Homo sapiens: one gene and its partners. The protein of the gene in region 1 interacts with the protein of each later gene in a pairwise test. Each region holds a gene or a part of one and is shown in the gene's direction. Other genes may lie near its edges.

Region 1 (6,744 bases):
AAAAAAAAAAAAAAAAAACAGAAAGAATGAATAAGACCTAGTATTTGCTAGGGCAACAGGGTAACTATAGTCAAAAATAATTTAATTGTACATTTTAAAATAACTATAAAAGTATAACTGGATTGTTGGTAACACAAAGGATAAATGCTTGAGGTGATGGATACCTCATTTACCAAAATGTGATGATTATGCATTGCATGCATGTATCAAAATATCTCATGTAATACATAAATATATATATACCTACTATGTACCCATAAAAATTAAAAATAAAAATAAATTTAATAAGATATGTTATCCAATTTTCCATCATCATAATGTTGTGAATAATATCACTAAACATAAATCTTTCTCCTCATTTATAATCATTTCCATAGGATAGAATCCTGGAAGCAAAATTACTGGTATGAATTTTTTAAAGGGTCAATGGATAAGGCCAAATCATTTTCCGGAAAGCTTAAACAAATAGCTACTTGAGGGCCTACTATATGCCAGATATTGTTTCAGGAAGATTATATTATACCAGTTTTACAGATGAGTAAACTAGGATCCATTGACATTATTTTTCTAGAGTTATGGAGATAAGAGGCAAAGCTAGAATTCAGCTTCATAATTGCCCAATTTCAAAGCTCTTGTTATTTCCATGTGGATTTCAAAAATAGTATTTTTGAAGTATCAAATTATATATTTACTAAAGAAAATGTGGAAAATGCAAGTAGAAGGTAGAGAAATGAAAACAAATTACCCATGAATCCACCACTTTCAATAGTTCAGTGTATTTCCTCAGTCTCTTATTCCAAATGTAATTTTGGGGGTCAAAAATATAGCATTGTATATATAATTTTATATCCTGCCTTTTTCACTTAACATTTTTCAGTGCTGATCTATACTCTTCATAAATGTAATTTTAATGGTTGCATATTATTGTCAAGTGGGTGTTACCACATGAATATTTACAGTTGTTCAGCTCATCTGTGAATTTCTTCTCTTCATTCCCAGGACTCACCATCTCTGCCTCCCATGAGGCTTACAGAGTTCAATGTTGGAAATCATTGTAATCTTCAAAATAAGTCACCGTGTTGGATTGAAAGCTTCAAAATTTGAAAGAATTCCATCAAATACTTGCTGTGTAAATGTTTCTGGACTTTATGTTATTTAATTTACTGACTGAAATCCAATTTGGAATTTGGTAGCAGTTAATTCAAGCCAATTTTTTTTGTTTCTTCATTTCCCCTCCCCCAATCCATGAAAGCCTAAATGTAAAATATATCTTTTCATTCATCTTATCAGGTAAAAGGAAATTCAGAAAATTTCCTTAGAGTCTTTAATTCCCCCACAAAGATTATTAATCACATATATAGGGCCTTTTTGGTGTTGAAGGGAATCAAACTACATTTGCTGCTTGTGTGCGTGTGCATTTGTGAACACGTACAGCATATCTATACAAAATTCTGCTATAGTGTGAAAATCAGGGCTAAAAACCTGAAGCCTTTGTTTAATTATGCTTTTCCTCTAAATAGCAACTTAAATATTTGCTAGACTTTGAATCATCGCTATATCAAGTATCTAAAATTTGGGAGGGTGAATCAGTACACTGTGACCAAGGTCCTCAAATTGGAATTTGAACAACAATGTAAAACCTGTTCTGTCACAAATGTTCCTGAAAGCACCACAGCTACTCAAGAAGATCAAATTCAGGACATAAACTTTATTGAACATAATAACCAGTGTTTTTTAAAGACTTTTTTGTCAGGGTGCAGTAAAATTCTCCAATTACTTTTATTCATTTATCTGCTTCCTAGTTTTATTTTAGCCTTTATGAGTTATTTTATGATGAAAGAAAATCTATAAGCCTAAGTTATGGCCCATAGGTTTTGTTAAGGGTTTTCAGAGTGATTTTCAGGTTTAATTTCACTGCCTTTCATAAGGGTAAAGTTTCACAGCTGACATTAGCCTGAGGATTAGCACTAAAGAGCTGTGTTTTCATAGCAGGGGCTATTGTACAGACAGTGATAACCAAATAGTAATATGCCAGTTCTTTCTTCTTTTTTTAGCTTCAGTAGTAGCTAAGCCATTAATACAGTTTGCATCAATTTCCCCATTTATTTATAATCAGCCTTTCTTTTAGTCCTAGTGCCTGAATCAATGAGTGAGAATACTAGTACTGATTCTTTACAATAATAATATCTTAAGAGTATTGATATCTTTCATTTTTTCATCCAGCAGTCTAGTGCCCAGCTGCTGACAATAAAAGCTCCAACTCTTTTAGAGATCAGTGGAATTTAGAAGCATCTTACAGGTATCAAGGAATTGAGCTTCTAGAGGGATGGTTTGGCTTACTAATTTATCTTCCCTGAAATATGTTTGAGTAAAAAAGAGTTGCCTGCCACAATTTAGTGTTGGGGTTCCAGTGGAGCTGAGAAAGTGAACAATCCAGCTACTTAAAGCAACAACAAAACCTGTTCATCTGGATCCCTAGGTAATTTTGACCAAGGTGAGACTTTTGGCATAAATTAAATGGATTGTGGTCAGCATTACATTTGAGAGAATACTAGACATGACTACACTTATTAGGGCTAGTGACTTTCTCAAACTCAGAAGCTAAAAAGCAGCCTAGATGACTATGCACACACTGGGTTTCAAGATGAAATCTTCTTATATATTCAGATGGAAAAAAATTTCCCCTTACACTCTTTCTCAAAATACTCTCATTTCGGTTTTTCCTGAAACCTTATTTGGCCATTCCCATGGTTTTATGACAGACAAGCCTTGTCTTCTATTCATATAGATATGCACCTTTTTCTACATGTATGGCCTTTACTTACTACACAGCAAGTAGGCCTCAAAGTAATCTTCCTCTTTCCCATCAATCATCTTCTGCCAAGCATTCAGGCAGAGCAGCTGTTAACTGTGATTCAAAGTCAGAAAAACATCAAGAACTTCTTTGATGCATAGGGTGTATCAGCACTCAGCTCCCACAGAAGTCAAGTCACAAAATATAGTGTCAGTTAACTATAAGGAAGTTCCGGAGAGGTAAAGCTCAGGAAAGATGTAATGCAAAGCTGATTGTTTAATGTCTTACAGATTTACACTGTCTTTAAAAGGCCAAATAAGGCTGGGCGCAGTGGCTCACACCTGTAATCCCAACATTTTGGGAGCCCAAGGCGGCCGGACCACCTGAGGTCGGGAGTTCAAGACCAGCCTGACCAACATGGAGAAACCCTGTCTCTACTAAAAATACAAAAATTAGCCAGGAGTGTTGGTGCATGACTGTAATCCCAGCTACTCAGGAGGCTGAGGCAGGAGAATCGCTTGAACCTGGGAGGTAGAGGTTGTGGTGAGCTGAGATCGTGCCATTGCACTCCGGCCTGGGCAATAAGAGTGAAACTCTGTCTCAAAAAAAAAAAAAAAAAAAAAAAAAGCCAAATAAATCAGGGTTTTACCAGGGGCTCAGAGATAAAAAGAAAACCTATTCCTATCTTAGCATTTTGGTCTCATTGGTTTATAGACTCTGATAATATCCCTATCCATGGATCATTTGAGTATTGACTAATGTACATAGGTACCCAACTGGTTGATTATTAATCAAGAATACAGAACTTTATTTAATAATTAGCACACCCTGATCTGGCTTCTTTGCTTGCTTTTCTTTGGATCCCTGTCCAATAACCTCTGTGGAATCTCATTCCCTAATTGTTGATACTCATTTTCTCCGTTTGCAAAATGAAGATACTCATTGTTAGGATCCTACTGCTGAAGGGTGCTATGTCACTTTCTAGTGCTCTTATATGTCTTTAATTATAGGACTGGAATGAAAAGCTTAACCATACAGTATTTCTAAGCAAAATAATGTACTCCATTCTTTTGTCCATGCTCTCATTGCTGATTTGTTCTTGCAGGACTTAGAGCACTTTGTTAATGTTCTTCCATTCACTCCAACAGCGTCCTCAGAAAGAGACAGAATAAAAAAATTGTTCCCCATGGTACAGCTGGAAAAATTAAGGGGAAAAGAGATTAAGTGGTCCCCAATGGAACACAGCTGTCTTATGCAGGGCTCACAGTTACCATGTTCAGTACATTGTTAAAGTAACTTGGCTTCCCAGGACTGGAATTATCATGGAGCAGTTAGAATTTTGAGAGTAATTACAACAGGATCACATTCTGAAAGAGTCACATTTTGTCAAAAATCTGAAAAGTATGCAATTTGTACAACTCTTACTTTCTATGTGATAAGAATGCAATATGTGCCTCTTTCCCCTACTAGCCCCATGTGACACATATTTTTCACACTATGTGGCATCAACCAGTGCCATTACCTCCTGTGGCACCATAGAGCCCAATCTCAGGGCAGACATTGCCAAGGTAAAGAATGCACTCCATGTTTATACCAAATTGCACAAAGTATAGACATTGAGGTTAATGGAGATTTAAGCACAATCCTAGCAAGTAAGTTTTAAGAATACTGAATATTATACATTATTGTAACATGAACCTAAAATTAATTTAACAGGGCCCAAATTCATAGGAATGTAACAGTCATTGAAAGCCTATTCTTTTCACCTCTCATCACACATATCTACATACATGTATGCACATGTACACACACACACACACACACACACACACACATACACATTTTCTCCAAAGCAGGCTGCCTCTTCAGCAGGAGCAAATACTTTAATTTAAAAGAATGATTATCTGTTTTCTCCTTTTAGAAAAAGAGTCTAAGAAACACAGCATGTGAAGAACATTAGATTTATACATTCCAGAATCTCTGCTCTCAGAGTAGCTAAGAGATTCGGTACAGAAGACGTTCTATGGAGAAGCACAGGGGGCATCTAATGAGATTGTCAGGCCCTTGGACAAGATCCATATTCTTAGAAAATTAATGAGTTCCATCTCGTTAGGAATTGGTTGATGAGGTATGGTACATCTGCATTTCTTTAACCATAGCTGTAATGTACCATATTAAATTGTAGCCTTTTGCATGCGGGTATTATATAATAATGAATGGGTGGCTCCTAGTAGCATGCAACCCATGACTGTTTACTTCCCTAAAAGGGTTAGGTCTGTGTCCTGCACAGTGTTCAAAACCATTAAATGTGTTCTTTGTAGCAGGATGGTACACAGCCATCAGCAGAATGAGTTAAAACCAACAATGAATTCAATATACCAGGAAATAGATTGTTAGTAGGGAATGGCATTAAAGGAAAAAAAAATTAGATAAGATGCATTCAAGGAATAATTACTTTCACTCTGCTGGCTTAATCAGTGAAGGAACATAAAAGGAAAGCTGGCAGTGGGTCTTGGTAATATATGAACTATATTAGAGTGCCAGAAAAGGAGACCTCAGAAGTTAAGCATAGGTTGCCAATCTGCTACAATTATTTTTCCCACCAATCTGCTCAAAATGATTGTATATAGTATTCTTAAAACCATGTGTCTTGGTGCAGAAATATTGACAAATGCTGGCCAGCTTTATCTTCCTATATCCTTCATTAAAAGTATATGCATATAATTGTTGGTTTTTTTTCCTAAATTGTGGCTTTGTTAAACAATGTTGACAAACCCTAAAGTTTCAGACTACTCTAAGGAAGTTTCTATACATCTAATTTCATAGGGGTATAGTGATGTTTGTTCACTCAGGTTGATTGGTATGCGTGGTATGTAGACTTCTCTGTAACATCTCACCTTCTGAACAGCCCCTTCCATGTGTTCGGTATTTCTGTCTTATGTTCCTACATGAATATGAATTGGGAAATTAGCTGCAATGGCTTTTAGATAGAAAGCTGACCAGTCTAGTGACACTTAATCACATTCAGTCTCTACTCAGCCTCACACATCTTTTGCCTTTCACTCTGCCATTGTGATGAAAGGAAAAAGAAAGAACTTTTCTTATGTGCCTAAGGGTGAAGTGAACTCTGGTTTGCTTTTTCTTACACTGAAGGCTATGTGTACTATTCTCCAGATGCATGTCACCTGAAAAAAGATACATAGAGGGGAACAACAGACACTGGGACCTATCAGAGGGTGAAGGGTGGGAGGAGGGAGAGAACCAGAAAAAATAACTAATGGGTACTAGGCTTAATACCTGGGTGATGAAATAATCTGTACAACGAACTCCCATGACACAAGTTTACCTATATAACAAACCTACACATGTACCTCTGAATTTAAAAGTTAAAATAAGTATAAACAAAACACACTAAAAAAGAAACACAGTAGCCCACTTACTCCTAACTCATACATTACCCTCAGAGAAATATTTGAGGAGACCCTCATTAAGGTAAGCCCCAGATAAGGTTTCCCTCAATTGATGCACCATTTGCAGGAAAAGTCCTTTTTCAGACAGAATGGAGAAAGCCCCCAATTAGCCAACCAGGAAGGCAGAAGTCATTCAAAATGCAGAGCATTGAAAACTGAAGTTTGGAACAGTCATTGCTGACTTTCTGACCAATTAATAATGGAGAACTTGAATCACTTAAAAGAAGCCCAACCCATAGATGTCAGGCTTAACACAAAACCAGAAAAAAATCTTTTATTCCAGCCAAGCTTATTTTTTTTAAAAAAAGTACTTACTTTGTCCTAGGTAAAGACCTCAAATATCTCTGTAGAAAATCCCATGTCATTTATTCTAGTGAATCAGTTACAAAGAGCTCATATTACAAACAAAGTGTTACTGGAAAGGGGTCTGGACCCAGACCCCAAAAGAGGGTTTTGGATCTCATGCAAGAAAGAATTTGA
Region 2 (7,604 bases), about 73 Mb from region 1:
GGTCTCTCTCCTGGGCTTGGAGACGCCGTCTTTTCCCTGTGTCCTCACAGGGTTGTCCCTCTGTGTGTGTCTGTGTCCTCATCTCCTTTTCTTATGACATGTCTTAGTCCAGTTCTGGCTGCTGTCACAGAATACCATAGACTGGGTGGCTTAGAAACGACATACATTGATTCTCCCACAGTCCTGGAGGCTGGAGGTCTAAGATCAAGGTGTGGGCAGGGCTGGTTCCTCCTGAGGCCTCTCTCCTTGGTTTCATATTTTGCAATATTAGGATAAATAATCTGTGCATGTGTATGAGTGTGTGCATGCAAATGAATATATAAGCATGTTTGCATGTGTATAAGTATGCATGTGAATGAGTATGTGAATGTACACGTGGATGAGCATGTGTGCATGTGAATGAGTGTGAGCATGTGTGCATGTGTATGTGCGTACTTGTGAATGAGGGTGCGTGCATGTGTATGTGTGCATGTGAATGTGTGTACATGTGAAAGTGCATGTGTGTGAGCTGTGTGCATGTGAATGAGTGTGAGCATGTGTGACTGCATGTGAATGTGTGTACATGTGAATGTGCATGCAAATGTGTGCATGTGTGAGCTGTGTGCGTGTGTGAGTGCATGTGAATGTGTGTACATGTGAATGAGTGCATGTGAATGAGTGTGTGCATGTGTGTGAGCTGTGTGCATGTGAATGAGTGAGCATGTGAGTGCATGTGAATATGTAAATGTGAATGCATGTGTGAATGTGAGCTGTGTGCATGTGAATGAGTGTGAGCATGTGTGTGTGCATGTGAATTAGTGTGCATGTGAATGTGAGCATGTGTGTGAGCTGTGTACATGTGAATGAGTGCATGTGAATGTGTGTGTACGTGTGTGTGTGCGAGTGTGAGCATGTGTGCGTGTGAGCTGTGTGCATGCGAATTTGTGTGCATGTGAATGAGTATATGTGAGCATGTGTTCATGTGAGTTTGTGTACATGTAAATGAGCATGTGTGCATGTGAATGAGTGTGAGTATGCATGTGCAAGTAAGTGTGCATGTGTGTGTGCGTATGCATGAGTATGTGTGTGTCCATATGTGTATATATATTTGTGTGCATGTGAGTACATACGAATGTATGTGTGCATGTCAGCATGTAAGTGACCATGCGCACATGAATATGTGTGTGCGTGTGTTTTTCTTACAGAAAAAAAATCATCCAATAGAACTTCATCACGTCGTCATCTCTGTGTCCCCAGAAATACCTACATTTTCAGCACAATGCGCTTGCTGTCTTCTAGAAATCACAAGCTCATTTTCAACATAGCACAGGTGGTATCTTGCCCCCTAAAACGGTAGTACTTGTGTCGCAATTGAATATGCATAGCCCAAGAACTCTTACTCAGATAAGAGGATTTTTCAAAATATGGTAGAAACAGAAGCCCCCAGACACTGCCCACAGGGGAACCACAAAGAGGAAGCCTCCTTCCAGAGAGTGCTGAGTTTGTTCAACAATAGGGACGATGCAGGAGAACCCAGGAGCGGCCTAAGCTGCAGCTGCAGAACACAGGGGCCTCTCCGGGTGGAGGCATCATACTACATGGTCAAGACACAGGTCGGGTATTTGGGGCATGAGCCCCTGAATCCTCAGTGTCAATGATGGCAGACAACAACACAAAACTTGTTCCAGGAGCTGATTTAAGGATTTGTTTGCAAAGAAGGCACAGCACTAAATATAACACAGTGTGGGTGAACATCTCAGGCACCAGCGTGAGGTGTAAATGCTCATTTCTGCGCAGCAGGAACCATGGTCTCTCCTGGGGACCCAGGGTGGCCCCCATCTGGCCTCTCTGATCACTTTGTCCAGAGCAGCAGTGTGGGAAGGGGCACCATGTTGGATTCACAGCTGCAGTGCTTGGTGTCCCTGCCTTTTATATGGAAGTGGGCTGGGCCCCAGAAAGACTCCGTATTTTCCAGCTACAAGATGATGGAGAAGGAAGAAGAATGCCGGCTTTGGGAGCAGATCCTGCCTGGAAATTGGGCAGAACACAGCCGCAAAAGAGAGAAGCATGAAACAGATCAATAAAACCTCTTTCTGCGTTGAAGGCTGCCCCAGAGAAAGACCCTCAAACACCATGGGTGCCTTCACTTGGCCCCTGCCTTCCCTCTCCCTTTCCTCCTGCTCTGTTCTGTCCTTCCTCCCTTCCTCTTTCCATCCCTTTCGCCTTTACTTTTGGTCTTTAGATGCCCAGGGCAAGACACGGGACACAGGGCTCCCCTGCAAGAGCCAAGCCATGGCGCCTGCATCCGCCCCCGAGATGTTTTCAGATACAGTCTCTCTATTAGTCTGTTCTCATGCTGCTAATAAAGACATGCCCAAGACTGGGTGATTTATAGAGGAAAGAGGCTTAATGGACTCAGTTCCATGTGGCTGGGGAGGCCTGACAATCATGGCGGAAGGTGAAGGAGGAGCAAAGGCATGTCTTACATGGCAGCAGGCAAGAGAGTGTGTGCAGGGGAGCGGCCTTTTATAAAACCATCAGATGTCATGGGACTTATTCATTATCATGAGAACAGCACGAGAAAGATCTCCCATGATTCAATTACCTCCCACTGGCTCCCTCCCTTGACACATGGGAATTATGGGAGCTACAGTTCAAGATGAAATTTGGGTGGGGACACAGCCAAACCGTATCAGCCTCCAAATCTCCCAGGACACTTTGGGTTTGCAAGATCTCTGGGCACCCCTAGGTGATTTCCAGACTTGGGAAGTTCTCTAGCTCCATCCATTTCTTTTTAGGCAGCAGAAGAGCAGAGGCAAGTCAGTGGGAAACAATCTCAGGAGTCTGGCAGCTCTGTTCCTCTACTGGGGTCCAGCCTTCCTGTTCCCCTTGCTCGGCACCCAGAGGATGGGCTGGTGGGCACACTGGATTGTCTACCATGCCTTTCCACGTCACACTGGCTGCTGAAGTCAAGACCAGGAGGCAGTGAACTGACAGCAGCAGAATTTCTGAAGTGACTGGGTGTCACAGGCCACCCCACAGAGTCCACCCTTTTCCTTTTTGGAGGGTGTGTGCCTGAACTCTCACCAGTGCTAGGTTTTGCCATGTGGCCCACACTCATCTTGAACTCCTGGACTCAAGCAGTCCTCCTGCCTTGTTCTCCCAAAGCACTGGGATTACAGGCCTGAGCCACTGCAGTGCTAGGGGCACTGGTGAGAGGTGAAATCAGTTCGGGCAAATGGATCATCACTCCCAGAAGACTAGAGGGGACATAACAAAGGCAATATCTGGTCTTTATTCCTGGTTCTGTAACAAGGAGGAGCTTCTAAAACTCTCGCAATTTCACAAATGCTAGCAATTCCCTGGTTGTATAATGAGGTGATATTTGCTGTTTCCTAAATGGCTTCAAGATGGGGCTGGCCACCAGAAACACCAACCATGTCATTAGGAGGTTGGAATTTCAGGCCAGCCTGACCTCTGGGGAGGAAAGAGGAACTGGAGGTTGAATCTGATTATGTGGCCAATGACTTAATCATACCTATGCAATGAGACCCCAGTAAAAACTCTGGACATCAAATGTCTTAGTCTGTTTGTGTTGCTATCACAAAACAACATAGGCTGGGCAACCGGTAAACATTTGTTGCTCACAGTTCTGGAGGCTGGAAGTTCAAGATCAATGCATGGCAGATTCTGTGTCTGGAAGGGACCTGCTTTCTGGTTCACAGACGGTGCCTCATTACTGTGTCCCCACATGGTGGATACGTTCACCAGATTCCCAGAAGCTTATTACAAGAGACAACTTCTGAAACATCTTCATTGTGACAGAAGTTAAGATGCACTGTGTTGGTTCCTGGATTATTGCATCCTAGCTCTGAAGGTTCTCAGGTCCCACAACTTCTAATTCCTCTGAGAATCCTACATTTCTTCCATCCCACTGACCATGACCAAGGGCCAACTCCCACTGCAGAAAACCAGGGTGTGCTGTGTTTCAAGATTATCGCCTTCCACTAGGGTAAAATCCCCAGTCTTTGAAAAACCTTTTTCTGCATCTCAAGTTCCTTTTTGAAACGTCTGTTTCCATGAAACATACGATCACAGCTCATAAATGCCTCAATTCTCCGATGTAGCATGCCTTGCTGAATTGAAAACAAGAATCTTTTTGATGTCCTGATGTTTCATCTAATTGCTAAATATTGTTTATTAAATACAGAAGCCAAGCACTCACTCATCTGCTTCTAGTCAATTAATAAGCATTTCGGTCCCATAAAGAGTGCGTGATTAAATACGTACATCAGGGATTTTAATATGCATCTGCCTAGTGAGATGGATTAACCCACCACTGAAATGCAACCCACTTGGGTACGTTATTGTCAGTGCCTGTTGTAAAGAAACCCAACAGCAGAAAAGCTGTGGTTCAGATTGATCACCCAACCTCGCTTTTTGCATACATTTCTCAGTGCAGCTGATGAGTATATTCCACCTGTCCCTGCAGCATCCATGTGAGTCCTGAGACTCCTGTTTCCTGCTCAGAAATTTGACTCATCGTAGCCTTCTTTTCTTCTTCCACCAGACCCCCGATGAAGGAGCGTGGACTTCCATCTACGCAGCAGTCACCCCAGAGCTGGAAGGAGTTGGTGGCCATTACCTATACAACGAGAAAGAGACCAAGTCCCTCCACGTCACCTACAACCAGAAACTGCAGCAGCAGCTGTGGTCTAAGAGTTGTGAGATGACTGGGGTCCTTGATGTGACCCTGTGATATCCTGTCTCAGGATAGCTGCTGCCCCAAGAAACACATTGCACCTGCCAATAGCTTGTGGGTCTGTGAAGACTGCGGTGTTTGAGTTTCTCACACCCACCTGCCCACAGGGCTCTGTCCTCTAGTTTTGAGACAGCTGCCTCAACCTCTGCAGAACTTCAAGAAGCCAAATAAACATTTTGGAGGATAATCACCCCAAGTGGTCTTCAACCATAAACTTTGTGATTCCAAAGTGCCCAGTTGTCACAGGTGCCATAAATAATTACATTTTCCAACATAAATGTGCCATTTTCCTTGCCGCGTTAATACAACTGAGTACAAAAGTTCCAAGAGAGATGCTCTCTTTTCAGGGGCTGCAATGTCCTCTCTGAGACCTAGTGGTGGATGAGGTCTCCTGTTTGATTTTGTTCCTGCACTCACTCATTTTTCCAGAGACCCAGCTGTGATTCACAGGTGTCAGACATGGGGAGGTGTGAGCCTTGCTTGCTACAGCCTGTAGGATGAGTTTGACGTGGCCAGCAGCACCATCTGGTCAACCTCATTCCAGAATGGCACAGTCACAAGTGAAGCATGCCACTGTCAAATCCGAGAATGTAAACCGCTGAACAGCTATGGATCAAATGGTAGCCCTCAAAAGATATGTTCATGCCCTAACCCTCAGAACCTATAAATATTACTTTATTTGGAAAAGAATCTTTGCAGATAGAATTAAGAATTTTGAGATGGGTCATTATGGATCATCCCAGTGAACCTAATGCCATCACGAGGGTTCTTATCAGAGACAGGTAGAGGGAGATTTGAGTACAGAAGACAAGATATTCGTGTGATGATGCAGACAGAGACTGGAGTGATGCCACCACAAGCCAAGCAATGCCTGGAGCCACCAGGAGCTGGGACAGGCAGGAAGGATTCTCCCTTATACCCCTCAGAGCAATCTTGGCCCCTCTGACGTCTTGACTTTAGACTTCTGGTCCCCAGAACGGAGAGAGAATAAATCTTTCTTGTTTTAAGGCTCCAACAAATTGGTAGTCACTTGTTACAGCAACCACAGGAAATGTATACAGCTTCTGATACTTCTGAAAACCTCACACAGCCAAAGGGTACATCCTTGGTATAGAGGCTCACTCTTACTCACCAGCCAGGCAAGGAAGGCTCAATCCTTTGGTGTTAGAGAGATAGATGTTGGGTTTTCAAATTTCAACATAGAGAAATCAGTCATTTGCAATGCTTTTGAGAAAGTACTGTGTATACCCTACGAGCCTGCACTCCTTATGTGTGAGACTGATGACCATTGGTTGGCTTATTATCCATTCCACTAAGTGACAAAATCCCACTGACTATTCAAATCCAGGCTCCTGGCATGCCTGTACCTTAGAATCACAACCAGCTGCAATTCCAGGATGGAGTTCAAACTAATTGTGGGGGCATGTGCTTCTTACATGACTGCTAGATTGTTCCCAGATGGGGAAGGTTGCCCTGATAAGCAACTTAAATGAAAATAATAAATGTATTGTTTGGCCTCTTTAAAAAAAAAATCATTCATCCTCCGGGAATGGGTTTGTCACCACAGATGGTGATTTTCCTTGGTAGATAACCAGGATGCCTGGATTTCTGTTGTTCCTTTACAGAAAACCAGGAATTTTATGTCATGGACCCACTAGACAGGGGACCTTCCTTGGTACAAAAGGATAAGAAATGTGGATTTGTTCCCTGGGATATTCACGTTAGATGCTTACTACATCATCGGTGTAAGGTCAGCCGAGAGAGAGGATGAGGAGACCTAAAGTCAGGCAAGCAAACTTTACTGAGCTGCTTGGCTGCTCCACCACAGTTAGTGGAGGCAGCCCCACTTACAGACTATAGCAGGGTTTTATAGGGCCAGAACCAGGTCGGGGTGGGGGAGCTGAGTCGAGGGTGCAGGAGGATTGGGTTGGGGTGGGGGAGCTGAGTAGGGGGTGCAAGTGTCTTGACCGCATCCTGGAGATGTTTTTCACCAGCTTTGTTATGCAAGGTTCACAGACATGCTAACCACATCCTGTAACTGTCTGGACAAACAGTTACTGGAGGGGTCAGTGAAGGCGGGGGGCGTTTGTCTTTAGCCCTGGGGGAGCTGTGTGGAGAGTGCAAGGGACTGTATTGTAAGGCCTGTGGAAGGGGAAGGGAACGGTCTGGTTGGGGTGACCCTAACAATCGGTATGCTTCTGTTTCGGGCAGAGCTCAGACCTCAATACCCAGGACTCTCAGTGCAGAAAGAATGAGCTCAAGCCCCTTCTGCAGAAAGATGCAGTCTCTGTGCAGAATGTCTGCTTATATCCTGAGACCCTTCATAGGAAAACCATGAATGATACAACCAGACTAACAGGCCAGGAAACAGCCTCCGGGAAGGAGAGGTTGCCAGAGGTTACAAGGAACAATGAAACTTGCAGGAAACATGCATGATATTCACCTCCCTAGTGTAGCTGGATTCATGGTGCTGCAGGGAGACGTGAAGCCCAACGGTGAAAACTTGCAACAAGATTTATGGTGCAGGGGTCTGTCCCACAGACCCTGACCAAGTGATGGGTGAATGAAGTACATTGACACACAGCTATTCTGCTTTGCCAGTTTGGCTGAGCATCCAAGCCACTTAGTAGCAGCCGTGGCCTCGATCAGTCAGCAAGACTTGCATTTATTCAGTAAAGATTAATTGACAAAGGTTGTGAGTCAACACCACTAGAGGGAAATTGACATTGCGGACTTCCCTAAGTAGAAAGCAATGAAGCACCTGCGATACATAAAAGGTTAGTCTTAGGACCACATGAGTAAACAAGTTAGTTAGAGACATTCCCCACATTCCTTTGCTTCTACTCTAATTTATTTAACTAAA
Region 3 (8,633 bases), on another chromosome or scaffold:
GCCTGCCTCGGCCTCTCAAAGTGCTGGGATTACAGGTGTGAGCCATTGTGCCTGGCCTCTCCTATTTTCTATTGAATATGAAGAGCTATAATCAGGTTTTGAAAAAGGTGAAGTGTCCACAGGAAAAGAGGGATGCTGGAAGCTGCATATGCATTGAGTTTTATTTTTGTTGCATCTCAGATGTTAGGATCCTACTGTATGACATTTTACAAGATTTCTGTTTGTCAATTGTTGCAATGTTGATGTGCCCTTCACTTTGAGAGTGAAGCAGATAGACCCTACAGGTGCTGAGGTCTCTCCTTCCTGCCCTGCTCCCTGTACATAGGCTTCCACTGCAGCAGGGCTGTGGTACCAGTGGCATGGGCACCTATGAAGCGGGGAGCTGAGGCTGCAGTCAAAGCTCACACAGGAATGTCTGACAGTGGCGTTCTACCTGGGAATGAAGTGCTGCTGGAAATATTTTATGATACTCACAGCCTTGTACAATCAGGAGCCTTAGAAATATGCAGAAATGGGCTGTGGCTCGAGCTACTGGGTCCTGATCGTCTGAGGAAATCAGTTAGTACAAGAACATATGTGTCCTAGAGAAGCTTGGGCTGTCTCCTGAGACCTTCATTGCCTAGTATCTCTCTTTTTCTCTCCTTGTTTTCTTTATCTGTTTCTTTCTTTCTTTTTTTTTTTTTTTTGAGGCAGTCTCGCTGTGTCGTCCAGGCTGGAGTGCAGTGGTGCGAACTCGGCTCACTGCAAGCTCCACCTCCCGGGTTCACGCCATTCTCCTGCCTCAGCCTCCCGAGTAGCTGGTACTACAGGCGCCCACCATCACACCAGGCTAATTTTTTTTTTTTTTTTGCATTTTTTAGTAGAGACGGGGTTTCACTGTGTTAGCCAGGATGGTCTTGATCTCCTGACCTCATGATCCATCTGCCTCGGCCTCCCAAAGTGCTGGGATTACAGGCATGAACCACCGCGCCTGGCCTATCTGTTTCTGTCTTTCTCTTCCTCTCATTCTGTGTTTTTCACTCTCTAGGTTTGTTCTTTTCCTTTCACTTCTTTCTTTCCTTCCTTCCTTTTTCCCCTCTCCTTCATCCTCACTCTTTTCTGTTCTCACTTTTTGGGCTTTAAGGCTCTGCCTGCTAAGGTCTGCTGATTCTCCCCCTCTGATCATTCTTCATGGTTTTTCTTAGCTCTTCTTGACTTTGGCCTGAATCCTTTCATCCAAAGTGGGTGAATGTATTACTCTTAGGGAGCAACAAGTATGGATTTTTAACAACTGTTCTGTTGAGATTACTTTATCTGACCATGGAAAGGGTACTCACTGGGCAGCTGAGGACTTTAAGTCATTATCTTCTTCCACAAACCCAGAAGATGGGCAGCTTTCACCAGCAGCTCTGCCAAACGTTTATCTCAGCCATGGACCTGTACTTCCTCTTTGATGATGAAGGTTATTGTCTTTCTGATTATAGATTGAGGAAACTCGGCTTAACATTGACAAGATCTCAGAACATGTAGAGGAGGCTAAGAAACTCTACAGTATCATTCTCTCTGCACCGATTCCAGAGCCAAGTGAGTGTTTACTTAGAACTGAGTCATCCAACAATCACCCTTTCCTTGGAGCTGAGCCAGCCTTGTTTTCTTGCCCTTCGTGAGCAGTAGGGAAGTGTACAAGTTACAGGGCACTAGTGTACATATTATCTCATTTCCCTCCCCTTTACCTTACCTGAGCTCCTACTGCCTGGCCACAGTCAAGGTTTTGTCTTCATGGTCCCACTCCAACCATTTAGCTAGACTTTCCTGTTTCCCAGCTAGTCCCTCTTCCTGACTGGCGACGATTCCCACTGCTGCTTACATACCCTGTGCCCTGTCCCTCCTCTGAGCCTCTGCGTGTACTATTTCCCCAGCCTGAACTGCTTTTCCTAGCCCTCTTTCTGAATCCTACCAGATCAAGTCCATTTTTTCTTTCCATGAGGTGTTCCAAAATGGTTCGAGTTCACAGAAATTCCTTCTATCCCTAAACTCCTGTTTGTTACCACCACCTAGGCAAACGTTTTTTCTCCCCTAATTGTTTGCATGGGTGTCCAACCTTTTGGCTTCCCTGGGCCACATTGGAAGAAGAATTGTCTTGGGCCATACATAAAATACACTAACACTAACGATAGCTGAAGCGCTGAAAGAAAGGTTTGTGCATAATTTTCCTGATATCTGCCACTACAGATAAGCAAAAAAATCCGTGCGTTCCACGGTTTGGACACGGGTGGTTTAGGGCTATATTTTTGGTTCCTTAAGAACAGGGAACAAGCCTGACACTGTCATTCCACTCTTTCATTTTTCCCATGGGCCCTCTTACCTAAAGACTGAAGTGGGAACACTTTAGCAGAGCATATGGGCATTGTCTTGATCACATTCCTGCCTTCCCAGCCAGCCTGTCTCCTGCCATCCTCCTCCTGCTTCCCACGCTTCAGCCAGAGCAACTCTGTCTGGTTCCCCAGGCATTTCCTGTTCACTCATACCCTTTACTTACTGTTTCTTCTCGTGGAATTCCTGCTTTTAGTCTCTTTCTCTACCTGGCCAACTCACAGTCCTTGAGACTCAGTCCTGCTCATCTCCATCTTTAGAGGCTTTTCCAGATCCCTCCAGGCTGTGCACACCTTGACCAGAACTCATACCTTACTCCACGCTGCATATTAGAGCTGCTGATTTATTTCTCCTTTGTCTCCCACTAGACTCTAACACCTTGCAGGAAAAATCTAGATCTTCTTTCTGATTCCATAGTTTCTAGCTCTGTTCCAAAGTTGTAGTAGGGGCTGAAGGATGGCTTTTGAATGAATGGTTATAGCTAACACTTAGTTTGCTCCATACAACCTAGGATGTGTGTAGTAGGTATGTCATAAATATTTGCCTCATTTTAAGTTGATTAGCCTTGGTTGAAATCTATTTTCCCCATAAGCTCCCTAGAACCTTCTCAACCGAAGCTCCCGTGGTAGGCTCTTTCCTCTAAAAGCAGAGTTTCCACAATTTTATGTGCTGCAGGATTACTCAGGAGGGTTGAAAGAGCTGATTTTGTGGTTCCAACCCTGGGTATTTTTATTCTGTAGACTGAGATGGGGTGCCTGGAAAATGCCTTTAAAAAAATAAGCACTCTGTGATTCTAATGACAGATGCTGGGGAGTGCGTAGGGATAAATACCATTCTGGGCAGTGGATGCCCGATAAAGCTCCCCTCCTCTGATGATGATTGCTGTAGTTCACAAAGGAATCAGTCCTCTCCTTTCTAACGGATTCTGCCTGCCTTTATTTACCCAGAAACCAAGGATGACCTAGAGCAGCTCACGACTGAGATTAAGAAAAGGGCCAACAACGTCCGGAACAAACTGAAGAGTAAGAAGGGAACAAAGAAAACAAGGCCGTCCCCACCACCATCTATCTCAGCTCCCCTAGGGTCCAGCTTTCCGAACTGAAACTCCTCTTGATGGAAGTGACACCACTTGGTCCATCTTTGCTTGTGGTTTGGGCTCTGTCCCCGCAATGATCCATTGTAGCCCCAGAAATTTACCTTTTCTTAAATCCTGACTGTACTGGAAAGAGTCCAGAATTGAAGCTAGGAGATGAGAATTAAAATGTGCTTTCAGCTGCTGAGTAGTTTTGTGACTTGGTCCTTTAACTTAGTCTTTCAACTTGTCTCTCTTTTTTTTTTTTTGAGACGGAGTCTCACTCTGTCCCCCAGGCTGGAGTGCAGTGGTGTGATCTCGGCTTATTGCAACCTCTACCTCCTGGGTTCAGGTGATTCTCCTGCCTCAGCCTCCTGAGTAACTGGGACGCACCTGGCCCATCAACTTTTCTCTTATTGGTCTTATTTCCCTGGCAACTACATACTTTTTTTTTTTTTTTTAAGACAGAATCTTGCTCTGTTGCCCAGGCCAGAAGGCAGTGGCTCAATTTTGGCTCACTGCAATCTCTGCTTCTTGGGTTCAAGTGATTCTCATCCCTCAGCCTCCCAAGTTGTTGGGATTACAGGCATGCACCACCACGCTCAGTCAATTTTTGTATTTTTAGTAGAGACGAGGTTTCGCCATGTTGGCCAGGCTGGTCTCGAACTTTTCTGGCCTCAAGTGATCCACCTGCCTGGGCCTCCCAAATCGCTGGGATTCCAAGTTTGAGCCACAATGCCCGGCCACCTACATACATTTGAATAGTCATTTTAGAGATATATAAATGCAAGAGATATCATTCAGTCTACAGATATTTCTTGGTGGGCTAGGCATACCACCTTCCCATACCCTCACTCCCCCCATTTGGGAGAGTATAGTTCAATGAAGCTACTGTCATAGATTCAGTTCTTCCAGAGCCTAGAAGGTTTACTTAGTTCTGTTGCTAGAGCCTGCATTCTTGCCCAGTGTATTTGGTGCATGCATGCTATTGATCAGAAGAGAAAGCATTATTGCTCAGCTCAATTTACCATTTCTTCCCCCCAAGTATATTGCAATAACTATTTTAACTGGAGGAGTCATTAGTAGCAGATTCCAGTAATAACAGTGATAGTGCACCTGCCATTGTGCTAGGCACTTTATGTGTCTTCTCATTTAATCTTCACATTAGTATTGTGAGGGAGGGACTGTTATTCTGTTTTACAGATGAGAGAACAGGTACATTAAGAGGGGTTAAGTGGCTTTTTCAAAGTCACACCCAGTAAGTGCCAGGGCAAGGATTCAAGCCTAAGTCTCATGGTGACCAGAACCCATGCTGTTAACTGTTATGCCAAAACCTGGTCATCGTAAAGGCTGTGGAATGCACGTCCTGTGGCTCATCTGGGAGCTGACCTTTTGAGGTGACACCTACCTGTTACATCTCCGTGGGCTGGATGTGTGGGAATGAGTGAGGAAGTTTCACTGAATAGCATGTTTCTTGGAGGCGGAGATAGGTTGCAAGTATAACCTTCCTCTCCTCTTTAGGCATGGAGAAGCATATTGAAGAAGATGAGGTCAGGTCATCGGCAGACCTTCGGATTCGGAAATCCCAGGTAAGACTTTTCCTGGTCTCATGATTAGCTAGTCCAATCTCTTATTGTTTTCCCTTAACTGTGGAGGGATTTTTTTTTTTTAATACAATCCTTATTTTGAAACTCAATTTGAAGACCTGGTAAAGGAGAACTCTCCAGGTTGAAATAGGGGTCAGGGCCAGAGTCCAGCCCTTTTGGCTCCTCTCCTGTACTCTCCTTCTCTAAGGAGGCCCCTGAAGAGCTTTTCAGGCTTCCTAGAGCACAGCTTAGGATTTAGCGTGCCTTCTTGTTTTACAGGAGAGGAAATTAATGTCTTCTAACAATTGTTAGTCATTGGTTGTCCAGTTTGGAGCTAGGCACTTTAGGGGTCATCAAAGATAGGATCCTTGTCCTTAAAGAACTGGCATGCCATTGAAGCGGCATGGAAAGCTATTACCTAAGACCCAGCAGGAGGATGCGACCCAGCAGGAGGATGCGATAAGAAGACACATGCATGGTGCTCTCAGCATCAAAAGATCTCAGGAAGAATGGGGGGTAGCCAGAGGAGGCTGGGCCAGAGTGCCAACATGAGCAGCCTCAGGAAGTAGTTTCCCCTCTCTGAGAGGCACAGGGGCAGGAGTGAGGCACGCACATATGTGTGTGTTGGCAGCAGTGGTTGGTAGTGGTGGTGGGTAGACGTAAGGGGCAGACGTGAAGACAATAGGCTTTCTGTAGAAAAAAGTTTGCTGTGGGATAGTGGACACATAATTTTTAGTAGATAATGTAGTGCCACATTCTAGAGGTCTTTGAGGACCAGTCTGGGGAATTTGGATCTGATGTTATAACTTACAGGCATTTGCTTCAGGCGGCAGTATATTAGGAGGATTATTATGGTAGCCATTTGAAAGCCGTTTACAAGTGGGAAAGAAGCAGGAAACTGGAAGGTCCCTAGTTAGGTTTTTGCAAGGGTTTTGGTCTAAATTTGTATGGTGGTAGTGGGTTTGGAAAAAGTATATATATTGGCGATTTTCCAAAGGAGAAACCAGTAAGTAGGGCTTGATGCTGAGAGGTGAGCAAGGAATAAAAATTATTAGGAAGGTTTTAGCTTAGGCATGCAGGGCTGTTGAGATAATGCATCTACTTATAAGCAAGAAGAGTTGGGGAGATGAGTTTAGCGTAAGAACTCAAGGATCTTTGGTAAGTATGACATGTGGGAAGGGAATCTGACAGTTTTAGAATGCAAGCCAAGTGTTGTGCCAGAAAAATGCTACTAGTCCATGTGGATGTAGGGCTCAGAGATTTAGAGATGACCTCTGGCCTCGCAATTACCACGTGAGGTCAGCAGTAAACCGGTTTCAGTAAACTGGTGCTGAAACCATGCTCTGGAAAGGGCAGTGGACTCTCCCAGTGGCACAAAGCTAGGAAACAAAAAACTTGGTTTGACACCTGGTTTTTTGATTCCAAGTCCAGTGCTATTGTAGATGGCTATGTGGGGGTGGGGAGGGGTTCTATAACAGTTACAGAACCACTGGGGCCTGACTGCATTTTACATCATCCCACAGCACTCTGTCCTTTCTCGGAAGTTTGTGGAGGTGATGACCAAATACAATGAAGCTCAAGTGGACTTCCGAGAACGCAGCAAAGGGCGAATCCAGCGGCAGCTCGAAATTAGTATGTACTTGAGGTTTGGCGTGTGCCCTCCACCTTTCCTGCCACCTGGTTGTCCATCCCAAGTTTTGAGGCCCTGGTGGAGCAAGCAGGAAGCACATTTTGTGCCTAAGTCTAGGGCAGCTCCTGCACCACTGGCACATCCCGAATGCTGTGCTGTAGGCTGAAAGGTGACACCGTGTTTATCAGGCCCAAGTAATTTTATTGTATGGGGTCCAGCATTGTCTCCTATATAGAGGGGAAATGCTTGCCAAACAGTTGCTCTCTTGTGGACTCATTGTATCATTTTGCTGTCTGTTTGACAGCAAAGCACATTTAAGAAATAAAAAGTGTGGTGTAAGTTGCTGGGAGGATAAAAGTATGGTGTAAGTTGCTGGGAGGATTAGAGAAATAAATAAAGCCATACCCTTTAGGAATGTAGTAATGTGGAAGGCAGGGCCCCGTGGAGTGGAAGGTGCTTTGGATGAGAGGAATGGTATGAACATAATCAAGAAAGAGCAAGTGTGTTTAGGAGTGGCAGGTTGTCTAGGGTCTGGAGAAAGGGTGTGTCTGGAGTAGCATAAGGTTAGGATGGATTGAGGGAGGGCTTGCCCATGAACTAGCATGTTATGAGGGCCTTGGACACCATAGTGTAGTGAATGGGGCAAGGAAATGTTCTGAGCTGGGAAGCAATGTAATGAGATAAGTGCTTTAGGAAGGTAACTGCTGATAGTGTTAAGGATGGCTTGGATTAGGGCAGAAATAAGATGAGTCAGGAGGCAATTGGGGGAGTGTTGTAAAGGCCACGGTCTTTATAGGGAAGTCACGTTCCTAATTTTCAGGGTCCTTATCAGATGGTGTTTCACCGTGATCTTATATTTGACGCTCTACTTCTTTTGTTACAAAGCTGGCAAAAAGACAACCGATGAGGAGCTGGAGGAGATGTTGGAGAGTGGCAACCCGGCCATCTTCACTTCTGGGGTGAGTGCCCTGTGTGCTCGGATAGCACATCCCTCTCGTGAGCAGGGAGGCCACTGCGGAGCTCATGCAGTCCAGCAGGTGGAGGGGGAGCTGCAGGTGCAGGGAGTTCAGGGAGGCAAGGAGCTCCCCAGGAGCGTGCATGAGGGCTGTGGCAGGGGCAGCCTTTCTTGCAGGGGTAGCTAACAGTCTGTGTGTGGCCTGTTGTAGATCATTGACTCACAGATTTCCAAGCAAGCCCTCAGTGAGATTGAGGGACGACACAAGGACATTGTGAGGCTGGAGAGCAGCATCAAGGAGCTTCACGACATGTTTATGGACATCGCCATGCTGGTGGAGAATCAGGTAAGTGGCAGTGAGTCCCAGCGTGGGGAGGGAGGAGAGGAAAGCTCAGGGTCTACTGAGAACAGGGAGAAAGGGAATACTGGAAGCCAGTGAGGTAGGGTGGGAGAACCATTGGGAATTTGCATAAAGGAGAAACAGAATCCCATGGGAAAGTGTGCATTCAAATTGAATGTTGACACTTTGGGTGATCTTAACCTTGTCATTCTTGCCTGTCCCTTTGGCCTTGCAGTCGTTGCTAGTTGATACAGGGTTTGATGTGTTCTGTCAAGTACCCAGTTTTCCTGGATTTTTGATTTTTTTTTTTTTTTTAAGATGGAGTATTGCTCTGTTGCACAGGCTGGAGTGCAGTGGCGTGATCACAGCTCACTGCAGCTTGACCTCCCAGGATCAAGCAATCCTCCCAGGATTTGTCTTTTTTTCTTTCTTAAAAATCAGAGATCCGGGCTCCTAATGGTGACGTTTTAAAACAGCCTCCTGATATGGACTAGTTCACTGATGACATTGAAAATGTGATCTTTTCTCTAGTTCACAGGGAAGACTCAGGTTTAACATAAATTTTTATTTTTTTCCATTTTTTTTCTGTTTGTATTTTTTTTTAATTTTGGCACCTTTTGCTAAGGCACAGAGCAGACAACAACATGAATGAAGGAGTAGCAAAATAGCATTGACAGAAAGACTCGAAACACTCGTGG

The links. Proteins that work in one complex are often made in the same cells at the same time.
Region 2: the proteins of ZDHHC15 (region 1) and DHRSX interact in binary tests that used the Homo sapiens proteins (3 or more experiments, as listed by UniProt).
Region 3: the proteins of ZDHHC15 (region 1) and STX3 interact in binary tests that used the Homo sapiens proteins (3 or more experiments, as listed by UniProt).

Annotation. Positions count from the first base shown.
Region 1 is NC_000023.11:75,367,201-75,373,944, reverse strand, and holds the end of ZDHHC15 (palmitoyltransferase ZDHHC15), read left to right. Parts: intron 1-999; 3' UTR 1,000-5,518; downstream 5,519-6,744. UniProt on the Homo sapiens protein: Palmitoyltransferase that catalyzes the addition of palmitate onto various protein substrates.
Region 2 is NC_000023.11:2,218,175-2,225,778, reverse strand, and holds the end of DHRSX (polyprenol dehydrogenase), read left to right. Parts: intron 1-4,549; coding exon 4,550-4,738; 3' UTR 4,739-6,273; downstream 6,274-7,604. UniProt on the Homo sapiens protein: Oxidoreductase that plays a key role in early steps of protein N-linked glycosylation by mediating two non-consecutive steps in dolichol biosynthesis.
Region 3 is NC_000011.10:59,785,574-59,794,206, forward strand, and holds part of STX3 (syntaxin-3), read left to right. Parts: intron 1-1,463; coding exon 1,464-1,563; intron 1,564-3,299; coding exon 3,300-3,374; intron 3,375-4,945; coding exon 4,946-5,013; intron 5,014-6,533; coding exon 6,534-6,642; intron 6,643-7,525; coding exon 7,526-7,599; intron 7,600-7,806; coding exon 7,807-7,941; intron 7,942-8,633. UniProt on the Homo sapiens protein: Potentially involved in docking of synaptic vesicles at presynaptic active zones. Apical receptor involved in membrane fusion of apical vesicles.